Regions from separate parts of the Homo sapiens genome. Here all the other regions are linked to region 3. Evidence: fine-mapped expression QTL. A gene starts in region 3. Each other region holds a variant in brackets. All regions are shown on one strand. Distances are between the middles of the regions. Region 1 holds the start of LOC105378780 (a long non-coding RNA gene). Region 2 overlaps LOC105378780 (a long non-coding RNA gene). Region 3 holds the start of GADD45A (growth arrest and DNA damage inducible alpha).

Region 1 (2,759 bases), 120 kb after region 3:
ATTTCTTCTCTTGGGTTTCTACTTCACACGGCAGCGTCCGTTTCTGCTTTATTTTCATATCTCCCATAGTTTCCAGTGTGGTTAGAAAACCACCCAGGACCACACAGCTACTAAATGCAGGAACAGGGGTTTGAACCTAGACCATTTGATTCCACACCCTGCCTGCTTACTCCCTGCCCCACAAGGCCTAACCTCCCCTTACAGAATATGCCTTGAGGACAGGCATCACCTCCTAACCTACTCCTAGCCATGGCCAGCACCTAGCAGCTAGCACACAATAATCAGTACCCAGTGATAGACACGATAGGCTTGCTGCCTGACGTTACATGTTTTCATGTAATCTCTTCTCTTCAGAGTTGATTAAGTCAGGTTTGAATTGATGAGAGGCTGAAATATTCATTCATTCATTCATTCAGTGAGTCAGTCACTTATTCATCAAATGTATACTGAGTGCCTTACCTGTATCAGGCACTCTGCTAGGTGCTTGGGGTATGAAAATGAATAAGCAAACTCCCTGAACTCAAAGTGCTTAGGGTCTATGTCAGGGAGGCAGTGCAGGGGTTCTCCATCTTGGATGAACATTTTTTGTGTGGGGTAGGGGAGATGGAGTCTCACTCTTGTCATCTAGGCTGGAGTGCAATGGTGTGATCTCGGCTCACTGCAACCTCCTCTTCCCAGGTTCCAGTGATTCTCCTGCCTCAGCCTCCTGAATATCTGGGATTACAGGCACCCACCACCACGCCTGGCCAATTTTTGTATTTTCAGTAGAGACGGAGTTTCACCGTCTTGTCCAGGCTGGTCTCGAACTCCTGATCTCAGGTGATCCGCCCGACTAGGCCTCCCAAAGTGCTGGGATTACATGCATGAGCCACCACACCTGGCCCCGGATGAACATTTTAATCTCCTGGGGAGCTTTTTAAAAAATGCTGATACCTGAATCTCACTCCAGTGATTCTGATTTAATTGTTATGAGATAGGACCCTCAGATATTTTTCTGCTTGTTTTTTTTTTAAGAATAAACTTTTTACTTAGATGACCTTGAGATTTACAGAATTATTACAAAGATAGTACAGAGTATATAATTCCTGTATACTCCACCCCGCCATTTCTCTTATTGTTAACATCTTACATCAGTGTGGTACATTTGTTACATTTAATGGATCAATATTGATATATTTTTATTAACTGAAGTCTATGTTTTATTTAGAATTCTTTGTTTTTCTTTTAATGTCTTTCTTCTTTTCCAGGGTCCCATTCAGGGTCCACATTACATTTAGTCGTCAGGTCTCCTTAGGCTTCTCTTGGCTGTGACAATTTCTTGGCTTTGGGTTTGTTTGTTTGTTTGTTTGAGTTCCTCAGATTCTAATATATAGCTAGGGTTGAGAGCTTTTGGTCTAGGGACACGAGCATGGAAACTCTAGACATAGGCCATCTGGGTTCCAGTCCTGGCTCGACTGCTTATTAGCTCTGTGACCTTGGTCCAGTCAAGCAACCCCTCGGAGCCTCTATTTTCTCATATGTAAAAAGGAGGTATTAGGAAGAACTACCCCATAAGTTGTGTGAAGATTCATTCACGGCAGTGTTTCCCAACTTT[TC/C]ATGCCATGGCATCCAGAGAAAATACATGGTATTTTTTGTTTGTTTGTTTGTTTTTTGAGACAGAGTCTTGCTCTGTCACCCAGGCTGAAGGGCAGTGGCACCATCTCAGCTCACTGCAACCTCCGCCTCTCAGGTTCAAGCGATTTTCGAGCCTCAGCCTCCCGAGCAGCCGGGATTACAGGCGTGTCCCACCTTTTTGTATTTTTAGTAGAGACAGAGTTTCACTATGTGGCCAGGCTGGTCTCAGACTCCTAGCCTCAGGCAATCTGCCCACCTCAGCTTCCCAAAATGCTGGGATTACAGGTGTGAGGCACCGCACTTGACCAGAAAATAGTATTTGCATTAGGTATTAACATAATTCACAAAACAAATGATAGTGGCATAAATGGATGAATCTACTCATAGCCAGTGGTAAGGTGATGAAAAATTGAGGCACATATGTCACCTGCAGTCCTGGTATGCCATGTTAGAAAGTTCTGCGTTGTCACATGTAAAAGCACTTGGATGCTGCCTAGGCCAGTGTGAACCCTCCATGTTTGCTATAAATAATACAGAAAGAGACAAACCTGTGAACAGCAAGCAGCACTGCAGCTGGGGCCAGTGATAGCGGCCAGTGCCAGGTTCTTCAGTGGCCCATTTGTAGTGACCTAGTGTGTCTCTCCAAAGGGAATGTTCATCTCTTACTGCAGCAGGAAGGAGCTGCTCTCACTTCCTGTTGGACTCTGGGTGACCTGCTAGGGACAAACCCCATGATACTTCAGCACACTGTGAGAAACAAGAGTAGCCAGGCCGCTGGCACCTGAGGCACACAGAAGCTGCCAGCAAATGAAACAGAAGACTCAGGAGCCTCCAACTCCGTGCAGCCCTCCTGCCACCTGCCTGCCTCTCTGGCGCCACCGTCTGGTGTTGTCTGGGTGTTTTATGACCACCAGTACCTGCTAAGAGGCTGATTTTTTTTCCCTGGAGATTTTTTTTCCTTTATGGAGAAACTTAAGGCTTGGGGACATATAATAAAACTAATATCTTGGGAGGAAAACATCAAAATCCACAATAGAAAAAGAAGTTAACACTGTCTGGGCCGTAGCAGAACCCAGAAAACATATTCATATAATTGAAAAAGTCTACAGCTTCATAATTGACCTTTTGAAACAAAATGGCCTATC
Region 2 (2,759 bases), 94 kb after region 3:
ACCCACCTAGCTATCTTCTTCCTTGGTCATGCCCTTCCATATTGCAAGCCACACTAAATGCACCACCACTGAAATTGCAACCTCAAGTATACCAGCCTCTACTCCCAGCTCACTTTTGCTGGTCCTCCAGTGCAATATGTATGCAGATCTCATAGAGATCTTTGATTATTATTAGCGCTACCACTTTTTCATCAGACACCTCACTCTCAACCCAGCTTAGAGTCATGATTCTTTCTTACAACCACTGCCCTGCAAACTCTGTCCAACAACCTCACATGTCAAGCTCCAGCTTTCCAGCTATCATGCTTGCACCCAAGCAGCTGCATGTTTTTGCAGAATCCACTGATCATGATGATGGGATTCCTTTGACATATATGGACACAAATCTCAAGCCACTGATGGACAAACACTTTCTCAGTATCTCCACTTCCAAAACTCTTCACACCCTCTGTCTTCTCAAACTTCCTGTATCTTCTCTCCTTTCCTCACTTGCAGCTGATGGCCTTCACCTGCAGTTCACTGAGAAAAAGAGAAACAACCACCTAGAAACCACCTCATCTTCTTAGTAACAAAACTTCCAACTTAACTGGCCTGTGCCCACATGCTGGGCCTTTCCTCCTGTTTCTACAGAGGGCACATCCCTGTTCCCCTCTCAGGCCAGCTCGTTTCTCCCATCTTGCCTTCCCCTGGAGAGCACTTCTCTAAGAGTCTCCTCTCTGTCCTGCAGCACTGTTTTCCTTTCTACTGATTCACTCCACTTCCACTTGCCCTCCCTCTCCCTCCACAGAGGGTCAAGAATCCAAAGCCGATGATTTTCCCGTGGAATTGTGTGGGAACTTGTCAGATCTGCTGCAGAAAAAAAGATACCCAAGGATAGATGATCTACATAATCCCTCCCAACTCTGAGCATCTATAGCTTCTGCCTTTATTCTCATGGGCCAATAGTAGTTAGAGTTAGACATTCCTTCATCTTCCTCTACTTTTTTTTTTTTTTTTTTTTTTTTGAGACGGAGTGTCGCTCCATCACCAGGCTGGAGTGCAATAGTGGGATTTCGGCTCAGGCTTGATAGCAGAGGCTTGAACCTCCGCCTCCCGGGTTCAAGCAATTCTCCTGCCTCAGCCTCTCGAGTAGCTGAGACAACAGGCGTGCGCCACCATGCCTGGCTAACTTTTGTATTTTTAGTAGAGATGGGGTTTCGCCATGTTGACCAGGCTGATCTCAAACTCCTGACTTCAGGTGGTCCACCCGCCTCTGCCTTCCAAAGTGCTGGGATTACAGGTGTGAGCCACCATGCCCAGCCCATCTCCCTTCACTTCTGAGTGGAGGTCCCACTCACTTGGCCATGGCATTATGGTGAGGTAGTTTGCTGTGATGCTCATTAATGTGAAAGCCAGCTGGGTTTGGCCACCACTCCTACACTGTCTTGGGTGAGTGTGGGCAAGTTCTTTTATCTCCTGAGCCTTCATTTCCTTTATCTATAAAATAGGGATAATAATAAGATTTACCCTCATAGATGGTAAGGATGGAAAAGGTTAAAACACATAGCGTGCCTATCTTCATGCCCATAGAACCAGAAAAATATTAAGAGATGCCTCCCCTAAGTGGTGGTTAAAGTTATTATTCCCTCCTGTGAGCCCCTGGGTGAACAGTGCATTGTTTAAGGACCTAGGGCAGTTGTGTTTGTGCAGAATTCACTTCCTACCATGAGGCCTGTTGGAT[T/C]TGTAATGGGCAGATTAGAATTTGTGAAAGTATGCAAGAGCCAGGATGTGAGAGGGCTGGATCCCTGGGCAGAACACATAATGAGGCAAACAAGTTATGCTGTTCCTGTTTTTGAGTTGCAGGGAAAGACCAAGGGCTATTTTTAGCTTGGAAGGTTTGGGTTCTGGGAGGGCGCTGCAGCCGTGTTTGTCACATTACGTTTTAACATAATACAGAGTCACCCCACTAAAGGGATCTGTTTCAGGTTGTTTTTATTAATCCAAGTGCCTTTTTTTCAAATTGAGATGTCCAGACTTAATGGGCAGCAAGCAAACAGTACCCAAGAAGCAGATTTAACCTAATAAAAAATAAATCCTTTGTTCTGTCAAGTTTCCATGAGGTATCCTAAAAACAGGAAAAAAAAAGTCATAAATATAGCATTGCCTTCACTTGAGTAAGTTGTTCTTTAGGGAAAAAATATTTTGTGATTATACTATTGTGTGTCTCACAAAAATAAACATTGGAAGTGTATGTTGTGGTTTAAGAATGAAGGCGAGACCTTCCCAAGGAAATTTTTTGAGCCATTTCAGGTGCAGGCAGATGTCTATCTGTCTTCTAAGATGACAACAAGCACAAAACTGTGGGGGAGGGGGCGCCTGGGGCAGTGGGAGATAATTACAGCAGGTACAGATAATTTGGGCTTGGCAGGTTAAAAACAAAATGTTGGGATTTTTATTCCGTTAGGATGGAACAAACAATGTCCTCCAAAATCAGACCCAACACATTCACTCAAGAAACCTTAGTTGAGCGCCTAGGACAGCCTGCTACTAGAGATACAAAAGGGAACAGATAGGATTGGTCCTTGCCTTAAGAGAGCTCATGGCTCAACAGAGAAGATAGATAAGAAAACAGTGTGACGGAAGCTCTGACCCAAGACATATCCTACTAGACCAACTCGACAACTTCCTAACTGCTTAATAATCCTAAACTTCAATTGCTTCATCTCTGACATAAGGCTAAGAATTCCTATTAAAGATCGTAGGTTAAACATGTGCCATGG
Region 3 (2,759 bases):
CCTGACCCCCACCTACCACAGATCCACAATCAGGCAACCCAGCCCTGACTCCCGTCCTTCCGGGGCTCTACCCTGCAGGCTGCAGTCCCCCAGTCCCTTACCGTCACCAGCACGCAGTGCAGGTCCGGGGGCTGCTCGGCGCCCTCGCTCGCCGCGGGGCCAGCGTCGGTCTCCAAGAGCAGGAGCTCCGCCAGCCGGCCCGGGTTGCTGACGCGCAGGATGTTGATGTCGTTCTCGCAGCAAAACGCCTGGATCAGGGTGAAGTGGATCTGCAGAGCCACATCTCTGTCGTCGTCCTCGTCCGCCGCCAGCAGGCACAACACCACGTTATCGGGGTCGCTGGGGGCAGCGGGCGGGGCCAGTGAGCGCAGAAGCGCGGGCGCCCTCAACCACTGCCCGGGTCCCTGGGGGTCGCCGCCCGGCCCGCTCGCCCCCTCCCTTCCGAGACAGGCAGAAAAGCGACAGGAAGTGGCGCGGCCGGGCGAGGGGCGCCCAGCCAAGGCGACCTCCCGGGCTGGGGCGGGAAGGGGTGCCATGGGGGACGCGCAAGGGCCCCACTTACACGTTGAGCAGCTTGGCCGCTTCGTACACCCCGACAGTGATCGTGCGCTGACTCAGGGCTTTGCTGAGCACTTCCTCCAGGGCATCCCCCACCTTATCCATCCTACACGCGGGCAAGGGCGAGGGGTCCCGTCAGCCCCGGTGCCCTCGGGGCCATCGCCGCCCCCCTCGTCCGGTACCACGCCCCTCCCTCTCGAATGCAAGCACCACCGCGCACCTGGGCTCTACGAAAACCCGGCGCTCCCGCGGCCCCGTCACCCCCCATGACCCCTGCACGCCCAAGGACCGGGCGTCCCGTGAGAAGTCCCGAGAGTGCCCCTGCCACAGGCTGCCAGCCACGGGAGCCGCACGGGCAGCGACGGCCACTGCTGCCCTTTGCAAAGGCCCCGGCGGGGCTCGTTCGGGTTGGGGGGCACGCTCTTTCAGTCCGTGGGAGCTCCACGGAGAGTCCCGAGGGAGCAAGGGCGGGAGTTGCCCTGTGCAAACTTTTTAGCTTCCTCCCCTGCAAGCCTTCCACAGCCCGGCTGCACCGGGGAGCGCGGGGTAGGTAAGAGAAGTTCGGGCCGGAAGAGTCCGCAGGCCGACTCACCTTTCGGTCTTCTGCTCTCCAGCCGAGAATTCCTCCAAAGTCATATTGCAAACTGCAGGTCGCCCAGGGAGAGAGCGCGGCGTGCGGGCTGCTCCTGCCACGGCTAGCGCGCGGGCGCCTGCTTTCTGCACTCACTCACAGGCGCCGCTCCGGCAGCTCAGGCCCTGGCGCTCTCCGGCCGCCCCTCGCCCGCCCGGGCTCCTCCTCCTGTGCCAGCCGCCGCAGCTCCGGCCACCCCTCCCGCCTTGCTTGCTCGCTCGCTCCCCGGACCTCGCCTCGCCACGGGCCGCACGACACTAATTGGGCCGCTGCCTCCCAGCCACTGCCTACCAGCCACTGGAGGACAAAGGGCCCCGCTCTCCGGGGTTATCCTGCCAACCCTCAGCCAACCACCTTCCGCCTCATTTGCATGCAGCTTGGCCATTGGGCTATGCAAATCAGCCTGCTCCAGCAATTTGACCCCAGCTCCTGGAGTCAGGTTGAGAGGAGCGGAAAAGGGAGGAGCCACGCGGGAGGCGAGCCGAGGGGGCGGGGGCGGGGGCGGTGCCGAGAGGGGAAGGCGGGTCCCGCGCGCACTCTTATCCGGTTGGCGGGGACCATTGGGAGTGGGGGGCTTTAGCAGAGGCTAGAGGTGGCCTCAGCTTGGGCTGAAGCAGGCTGCCAAGTGTTTTTCTATAATAGTTGCGGCACTTTTTTCTTATTATCTTTTCATGTCTTTTGTTTTAAGGGGTGGCTATTAAAATCTATTTCCAGGGTTAATGCACTGAAGTCTAGTAATTATTAGTAAGCAGGTTACATTAAAAAAGTGTCTCCAGACCTCCGGGGCAAAGTTTACCTCAGAAGTGTTGTTTATCTAAGTCTAGGCGAAGCTGCTTATTAGCAGTAGTATTATTTCGGTGCCCTGATGGCTGGTTTGATTTATTTTTGGAAAGCTGCAAGGGTTGGAAGCTGAAAAAAGAAAAACCAACCCGTTTGTATTCAGGGATGGCAGGGAACCAAGTTAGAATCTTTTCCACAGAAAGCAGAACGGTTTCCCACCTGCCCGGTGTAACTGGGAAATCGTGAGCTGGTCTGCGTGGGGAGCTGGTGACCACATGTGGGAATCCCTGGCAACCCAGATTCTCCTTTCTCAAAGAGCCTTGCCCAAACAAGGATCCTTCTGGACGCCCACCAGCTGAGAGACAACCATCTGACACCCACACAGCCCACAAGTCTAAATTCAAAATGCTCTCGATATGCCCTAAGCTTCCTTTCCTAACGTATGTATGTCGTTACCTTCCACAGAGAGCCTCCTATGATCTCACTGTGAATTATTGATGTTAGATGCTGAATCATGAAGCTGTAACTATAGGAAGTTTTTAGTCATATGCTAAAATTTCACCTTTGAGATAATGGCAACTTGTAGGTGGAAAGCAGACCTTTAAAACTGCAAATGGTAGTTACACATTTTTGAAAAACAAACTTTAATATATAGACTCTCACTGAGTAGTTCAAAAGTCCCTTCCTTTGTTTTATGGTTTATGCAATAAAAGCAAAAACATTTCTTAAACCTACTGAAGTCATCAAAAGTGGTGAAAATGGCTCCCACATGCTTGCATTCAAAACAGTG

What was found.
Region 1: its variant is fine-mapped to the expression of GADD45A in whole blood (TOPMed, PIP above 0.99).
Region 2: its variant is fine-mapped to the expression of GADD45A in whole blood (TOPMed, PIP 0.94).

The regions. Positions count from the first base shown.
Region 1 is chr1:67,561,563-67,564,321 of GRCh38, reverse strand. It overlaps LOC105378780 (a long non-coding RNA gene), which reads right to left and starts at 2,274. Exons shown (of 4, transcript XR_947474.4): 1 at 2,163-2,274. The variant TC/C (reference allele first, on the strand shown) is at 1,595.
Region 2 is chr1:67,589,593-67,592,351 of GRCh38, reverse strand. LOC105378780 (a long non-coding RNA gene) reads right to left here. Exons shown (of 4, transcript XR_947474.4): 4 at 1,955-2,104. Among named protein-coding and RNA genes, the nearest start is that of LINC01702, 69 kb to the right of the region's middle. The variant T/C (reference allele first, on the strand shown) is at 1,721.
Region 3 is chr1:67,683,930-67,686,688 of GRCh38, reverse strand. It overlaps GADD45A (growth arrest and DNA damage inducible alpha), which reads right to left and starts at 1,488. Exons shown (of 4, transcript NM_001924.4): 1 at 1,151-1,488; 2 at 563-664; 3 at 102-339. The coding sequence starts at 1,194. RefSeq lists enhancers at 1-59, 1-234, 265-314, 1-517 and silencers at 415-554, 625-754, 1,225-1,384, 1,575-1,634, 1,645-1,824.